2 linked regions of the Homo sapiens genome follow. The protein of the gene in region 1 interacts with the protein of each later gene in a pairwise test. Each region holds a gene or a part of one and is shown in the gene's direction. Other genes may lie near its edges. The genes, in order: PPP4R1 and SASH1.

Region 1 (3,818 bases):
TTCAAATGATGTCTTTGCTGAGTATGGAATGTGGGGCTGACAGTTTGTCTTTCAGTATATTAAAGATGCCACTCCATTGAGTTCTGGCTTGCCCACTTCTGACTCAAAACACACGCCTCCTCTTCTGCCATATAGTGCCGGGGTGTGAGTCCATCTAGTCAGGGTCAAGCTGGGTTTGCGTTTTGTGATTGCTGTGGTTACGTTCAGTGTACTTGGGGCTTCAGTTTTTCTCGCTGTGGGCTGCCACTACCATTGTCGTTTGCTGAGGGTGGCAGCTGGGGTACCAGTGGTCTTCTAGTGTGAGTATTCCACCCGGCGTTTAGCGGTACCTGCACCCCTGCGTAATGGGTGGGACCTCCTATCTGTGCTTGGTCTCGGGCAGGACTTCCTACAGCTCCTCCTGGAATAAGGAGCATTAGTTCTCCTCTCCCACAGTTGCAGTATTTTTGCTGGGCCCACAGGGTGGACAGGCTTTGGGGCCCCTCCACCAGCAGGTTAAGCCTTTTGCTTTGCACGAGAAAAGGGCCCAGCAGAGTGCTTGATGATTCATGGCTGTCAGTCAGTTGCTTCTGCCTGCTATGAGACATCTCTCCTGTTTTTCCTGACCATCTTTCTTGAAGCACCCATGGGAGGCAGGTACCCTGTGGAAGTCAGAAGGTTGTCTGGGAATGTGAGCTCCCTGTGTCGGGCACATCTGGCTTTGTTTGAGCCACCCCATGCTCCTGCCAGCCACCATCTGGCCCTGGGCAGCTGACTGCAATTCGAGCTGATTTCTCCCTGCCCTGTTAGGTGCTAGCAGGTGTCCTGTCCATCCGGGCTCTGCTGAGGGGCAGTTCTCTTTCCCATCTTGGGAAGTTAGGTTGTTTGTGTGCTTTGCAACCCCAGCTCTCTGATGGGCTCAAGAAAAGATCTTGAAGTTTATGTAGCTTTTTCTACTGTAGGGTCAGTGACGTTCTTTGCAGTTTTCTGTATTCTAAGCAGAAACTGGTCCTATTTGGAATTTTTATTTTGAATTTTGTCAGAAAATAAGTGTGTCTCTTTGAGGATGCATATTTGTATACACAGGTGCATTTATCATTGCTGCATAATCTATATTCATGTTACAGTTGACTTTCTGCTTATTAGAAATGTAAATCCTCTTGAACATAAAATCTGAAAGGCAAAAGTCTCACATCCAAGGTATTTCTTCAAGGCCATCATTGAAGCTTTCAGGTTAGCTTGGTAGATGTCATGAAAGTCTCAGGGCCCCTCAGATGTGATGGGAAGGTTGCTGGAGGACACCCTCCCTCTGTTATCCCTAGCAAATCCCTTCCAGGAAGGCTCCTCAGAGCCTCGACAGGTACACAGTGGACTCCCTCCCTCTGCGGGGACTTCTTACTGAGAAACTTGATTGTAGATGGAAGCTTCTCAGCACATTCCAAACTGTGACCATGGATCAGTGTGGGCCATGTTCCAGTTGAACATACTAGGAAGTGCTTTGCTCTGTCTCAGTCCCCATGGATGCAGAACTCTACAGCTTTTGTTTTCCTTACACTCTAAGGAACTTGAATAGCATGTAAGTGCATTTCCAGATACACAGAGACTGGAGGTAACTGTACAGGAGAGGTCTGCTTAATCACTCCTCTTTGCGTATGTTTGAGACAGGTGCTCAGTAATCCAGTATTACAGATGATTTAAATGGGTAACCTATTTTCATTTGTCTCGCTGATTTTTAAACATTGTCTTTTTGTAATTCCTTTTTGTAGACAGCTGATTTTACTTCTAGAGTTATATAGTCCCAGAGATGTTTATGACTATTTACGTCCCATTGCTCTGAATCTGTGTGCAGACAAAGTTTCTTCTGTTCGTTGGATTTCCTACAAGTTGGTATGTATTGAACTTTTAAAATTTTAGATCAGCAAACTCTAAGATCCTAGAATGGAAGCTGTTCCTCATTTCTCCATGCTCACCCTCCCAGGTCAGCGAGATGGTGAAGAAGCTGCACGCGGCAACACCACCAACGTTCGGAGTGGACCTCATCAATGAGCTTGTGGAGAACTTTGGCAGATGTCCCAAGTGGTCTGGTCGGCAAGCCTTTGTCTTTGTCTGCCAGGTAAGCGAGGCCCTGGGCTTACCTGTTTGTGAGTTTTTCTCCTAGAAGAATGTCTTCTTTAACTTCCTACCTCTCTCTCACCCTCTTCCTTACTCTTAAGGAACAGAACCTTATAGTAGCCTGGCTGTTTATAGGATCATCTGCCCCCATTGTTGGGCATCTGGTGGCCCCTCTCTCCCAGCTAGCCAAGCCCCTCCTTACACTGGCATGCACCACACACACCCCACGTGCCTGCTGTATGTGCTTGTTCCACACCACATGCCTGGTATGTGCGTGTTCTGCTCTGCACACATTCAGACGTGTGTATATGTACATTTCACAGTGCACATACATGCATGTTCCTCACTGTTCCTCACTGCATATTACACAGGCATACATACATGTACCCCACCACACACATACTGTGCACACATATACCATACCACGGTTCCCACTAGAGGGTGCTCATGTCTGGGACCCAGAGCGCAGGTGTGAAAATGAAACACCTGTGAATGAACACTCTAGGTCTCCGTAGAGCAGTTTAAAAACTGTGTCTGTCCGTGTGGGCAGTTAATTATGTAATTTTTGATTTGAGTTCCCAAGTACGTGGAATTTTGGTTAAAAAGCAATAACTAAAATTTGTACCTGTGGTCACTCAGAGATTTTGTTAGCCAGTAGTCGAGTTTTTGGCTACATTGACAGAGAAGCCTAGAGCAGCTGTTTCTCTTCCCCAGACTGTCATTGAGGATGACTGCCTTCCCATGGACCAGTTTGCTGTGCATCTCATGCCGCATCTGCTAACCTTAGCAAATGACAGGGTTCCTAACGTGCGAGTGCTGCTTGCAAAGACATTAAGACAAACTCTACTAGAAAAAGGTAGGTAGTGACTCCACTAGAAGAAGCGTGTGAGTAGAGAAGGAGGTCTGTGGACTGCACTGGATCAGCAGATATCAAAGCAGAAGTATTGTCTGCTCAGAGAAAATAATCTGGTGGAAGGAAATACTTTAGTTGTTCCGGTGATTCTCCCAAGAGGGCATGGAAGATGAAAGGGATTTTTTAATTAGCCCTCTACTGTTCTAGTTGGAGTTTATTTATCGGAAGCATGTATCATTTTTATCATTTAAAACTTAGGTTTTTTTGTTTGCTTGATATTTTGAGACGGAGTCTCGCCCTGTCACCCAGGCTGGAGTGCAATGGTGCGATCTCAGCTCACTGTAACCTCTGCCTTCCGGGTTCAAGCAATTCTTCTGCCTCAGCCTCCCCAGTAGCTGGGATTACAGGTGCCCGCCACCACGCCCAGCTAATTTTTTGTATTTTTAGTAGAGATGGGGTTTCACCATGTTGGCCAGGCCGGTCTCGAACTCCTGACCTCATGTGATCTGCCTGCCTCAGCCTCCCAAAGTGCTGGGATTACAGGCATGACCCACCGTGCCTGACCTAAAACTTAGTTTTTAAACTTGGGTGTTGTTTTTATGTACAAACCATTGCCTGGCAGCGTGCCACTTGCAATCTGCAGTATGGGGGCTGGTACCTACCTATGTTTGCTCTCCCTTCTGCTTTCTCTTCATTAGGCAAGAGACAGATGCCCCATAGTATTTGTTTTGTTGGAAATTATAATCTCTTCAAGATTAAAGGTGGTTTATTTATTTTAATCGACCCCCCCGCCGCCTGCCGCCCAAAACACCTCATAAATATAGTTGCACGGATGAATGAAGCACAGAAAGAAGTTTGTAGTAGATGTCAAAGA
Region 2 (3,818 bases), on another chromosome or scaffold:
TCTTCTTTCTTTCTTTTTTTTTTTTTTTTTTTTTTTTTTTTTGAGTGAGTCAAACTCTGTTGCCCAGGCTGGAGTTACAGTGGCGCGATCTCGGCTCACTGCAACCCTCAACCTTCCAGGTTCAAGCAATTCTCCTGCCTCAGCCTCCCAAGTGGCTGGGATTACAGGCATCTGCCACCATGCCCGGCTAATTTTTGTATTTTTAGTAGAAATGGGTTTTCACCATATTGTCCAGGCTGGTCTTGAACTCCTGACCTAAGGTGATCTGCCTGCCTCGGCCTTCCAAAGTGCTGGGATTACAGGCGTGAGCCACGACGCCCGCCCGGCCAGAAAAGTAACTTTTGTAGGCGATGGGGTGGCAATGAGGTTGGAGGGAAGGAGACTACTTTAGTGACCCAGGCAGGGATAGTGAGAGCCCCAACCAGATGTTTCTGTGTCGAGTCATTACCTGTCCTCTGGCTGCCTGAGGCCCAACACTTTGTACAGTCTCTAAAGTAATCAAGACTGCTCCATGGTAACTTTCTTTTGATAATTCTTTTATGCTCAAGAGTGGGCTGAGTTAATGCAAGACATTTTAGAGATGTCGTATGCCTTGTGATTTTCTTTTTTTCTTTTTTTTTTTTTGAGACGGAGTCTCGCTCTGTCGCCCAGGCTGGAGTACAGTGGTGTGATCTCGACTCGCTGCAAGCTCCTCCTCCCGGGTTCATGTCATTCTCCTGCCTCAGCCTCCTGCGCAGCTGGGACTACAGGCGCCTGCCACCACGCCCGGCTAATTTTTTGTATTTTTAGTAGAGATGGGGTTTCACCGTGTTAGCCAGGATGGTCTCGATCTCCTGACCTCGTGATCCACTCACCTCGGCCTCCCAAAGTGTTGGTATTACAGGTGTGAGCCACCGCGCCCGGCAGATTTTCTTTCTCTCTAAAGGAAAAGGCGGCCAGGCACAGCGCCTCACACCTGTAATCCCACTGCTTTGGGAGGCCAAGGCTGGAGGATCGCTTGAGGCCAGGAGTTAGACCAGCCTGGGTAACATAGCGAGATCTCATCTGTAATTCTTATTAAAGAAAAAAGAAAAAAGTATCTATCCATGTATATATGTACAAATATTTGTATACCTGTCTCTCTATACTGATAGAATGTGGTTCCTTAAAAGGGGGAATTATTATTTATAACAATATGCACACCACTGAAAGATCTTTAAATCATTCTTTTAAAAGCTAATTGTAGAGTACAGTGAAATAGTGGGAAATATGTAGTTCAATGCAAATTTATTCATTTGCAAATCCGTAGCTCAATTTTACAAAGGATGTAAGAGGAAAAACTATTGTTTATCTAATGTGTCCTTTTTAAGAGTGCTGTGGTGCTACCTGATTGTTTCGTGTCTAAGACTTGACTGTCATAATCCCACTGTAATAGACGATGTGCCTACCTGTGGTTGACACACATTCTTGGCATTAGTAAAAATGAAATTGGTCTCAAAAGAGTGAATCTAAATGGACAGAGACTGACTCTCACTATCAGTGATACCATTTAATACCTGTGAGTACAGACTGAGACTACAAGAATTAACTAAACCTTCAGACTAATTTTGAGATAAAATGTATTTTTTGAGTACATAAATTGTCATTTTTCAAATGATATGCTCATCTATTTATTAATTCACTTTTGTAAGAAGACCTGAAAATGGTAGGTCTCTTCCTCATTAGCTTTGCTCCTAGCCAGATGTTGAACGTCCCTTCTTTTGTTCTCTGAAGTGTTTCACTGGGCAGCATTAATTCTTTATGAGGAGAGATGCTTCACAGAGATAACCTATCTTGTATCTTTCCTGCCATGTCAAGTCATGTAATACAGACATCTCCATCCTGGAGACTGGGTATCCAGGCATTATGGTAACTCTGAGACTCAGAAGACAAACGCTTGAGAAAGGGCTAGTATTTCCTTTCTGCGATAGTAGTTTTTTTTTTTTTTTTTTTTTTTCTGAAAGGCTCTTCTATGGCTTTCAAGATGATTGGTGAAAATGGAAATATATTTGTATTTATGTTTGTTTTTCAAGATGATTGGTGAAAACGGAAATATATTTGTATTTATGTTTGCTCTTCAGACTAATGTTCTCTGTGTTCACAGAGATACATTGCAGTTCTCCTTGGGTGTCTGATGCAAGTTCCATTCATGGTTGATTTTGATGTTTCATTCACTATTTGCTAGATTCCTTTTGCAGCAAGTAGTGAGTGAGGAAGTTTCCATGTGTCCACCCATCACTCTGCCTGGTTGTGGCTTCCTTCTTTCTCCTAGCATGAGGTAGTAAGAAAGAAAATAAAAGCATTATAAGAATCACATGATTTTTAAGTAAAGAGCCATTGAGGAGCAGAATAAAAAATCTTGGGATATGCCCTGAGCCCTAGTTACTCACCGCTTTTTTTTTTTTTTTTTTTAACTGCCCTTAATCTAGTAGGACCTAGTTTCCTTTAAAATGTATCCTAAGCACCCTTGACTTTGTTGACTTTAATAATAATTTTGTATTGGTCTTGCTGTCAGCCAACAATTGTTTTTAACCTAGAGCTAAAACATGTTTATGTGTGTGTGTGCTTTAAAAATTTAGTGTTTCAACATTAAATTATTTGTAGAGGAAAGGAATACTCTAGTTCAAGAATATGTATCTTTGCTATAGGAGTTTGTCTTTGTCTGTTTTCATAGGATTTTAAGGACCTCCTTTGTGAAATAAACCATTAACAACTTTGTAGCATTCCTTGTTTGGAAATGCCCAGTCTTTTAAAAAAAAAGTTTTGAAAGAGAAGAGTAACAACCTTAATCTGTGAGTTAAAACATTTAGAAACAAACAAACAAAAGTTAATTGAACATCTCTTAGAAAACTGATAGGTAGAATAGTAAAGTAGTTAAGAGCAAAGGAACTATTTTAGGTTGTTTGAGTTCAAATTGTGGCTTTAACCCTTACCGGACATGTGACCTGGGTGAGTTATTTAATTATTCTGTACCTCAGTTTCCTTATCTGTAAAATGAGGTTAACAGTCACCAACATCATTGGGTTCTCATGAGGATTATTTAAATAATGAGAACAAAGGCCAGGCTTGGTGGCTCACGCCTGTAATCCCAGCATTTTGGGAGGCCAAGGCGGTGGATCACCTAAAGTCAGGAGTTCAAGACCACCCTGGCCAACATAGTGAAACCCCATCTCTACCAAAAATACAAAAATTAGCCAGGCATAGTGGCAGGCGCCTGTAGTCCCAGCTACTTAAGAGGCTGAGGCAGGAGGATTGCTTGAACCCAGGAGGTGGAGGTTGCAGTGAGCCAAGATCACACCACCGTACTCCAGCCTGGGAGACAGAGTGAGACTCCTTCTTATAAATAAATAAATAAATAAATAAATAAATAAATAAATAAATAAATAGAACTGTGCATGACATACGATGAGCAGTTCATAAATGTGAGTTATTGGCTGGGTACGGTGGCTCATGCCTGTAATTCCAGCACTTTGGGAGGCCGAGGCAGGTGGATCACCTGTCAGGAGTTCAAGACCGGCCTGGCCAACATGGCGAAACCCCACCTCCACTAAAAATACAAAAATTAGCCAGGTGTGGTAGTGGGCACTTGTAATCCCAGCTACTGGGGAGGCTGAGGCAGGGAGAATTGCTTGAACCTGGGAGGTGGAGGTTGCAGTGAGCTGAGATTGTGCTACTGTACGCCAGCCCGGGTGACAGAGCAAGTCTCTGTCTCCAAAGAAAAAAAAGTGAGTTATTATTAACTACTAACAATAGTTGAATCTCTTTATTTAGAATATGAATTAATATATCTTTATTTTAAT

What was found.
Region 2: the proteins of PPP4R1 (region 1) and SASH1 interact in a two-hybrid assay, tested with the Homo sapiens proteins (one large-scale study listed by BioGRID).

Annotation. Positions count from the first base shown.
Region 1 is NC_000018.10:9,548,326-9,552,143, reverse strand, and holds part of PPP4R1 (serine/threonine-protein phosphatase 4 regulatory subunit 1), read left to right. Parts: intron 1-1,745; coding exon 1,746-1,866; intron 1,867-1,957; coding exon 1,958-2,092; intron 2,093-2,805; coding exon 2,806-2,947; intron 2,948-3,818. UniProt on the Homo sapiens protein: Regulatory subunit of serine/threonine-protein phosphatase 4. May play a role in regulation of cell division in renal glomeruli. The PPP4C-PPP4R1 PP4 complex may play a role in dephosphorylation and regulation of HDAC3.
Region 2 is NC_000006.12:148,349,240-148,353,057, forward strand, and holds part of SASH1 (SAM and SH3 domain-containing protein 1), read left to right. Parts: intron 1-3,818. UniProt on the Homo sapiens protein: Is a positive regulator of NF-kappa-B signaling downstream of TLR4 activation. It acts as a scaffold molecule to assemble a molecular complex that includes TRAF6, MAP3K7, CHUK and IKBKB, thereby facilitating NF-kappa-B signaling activation.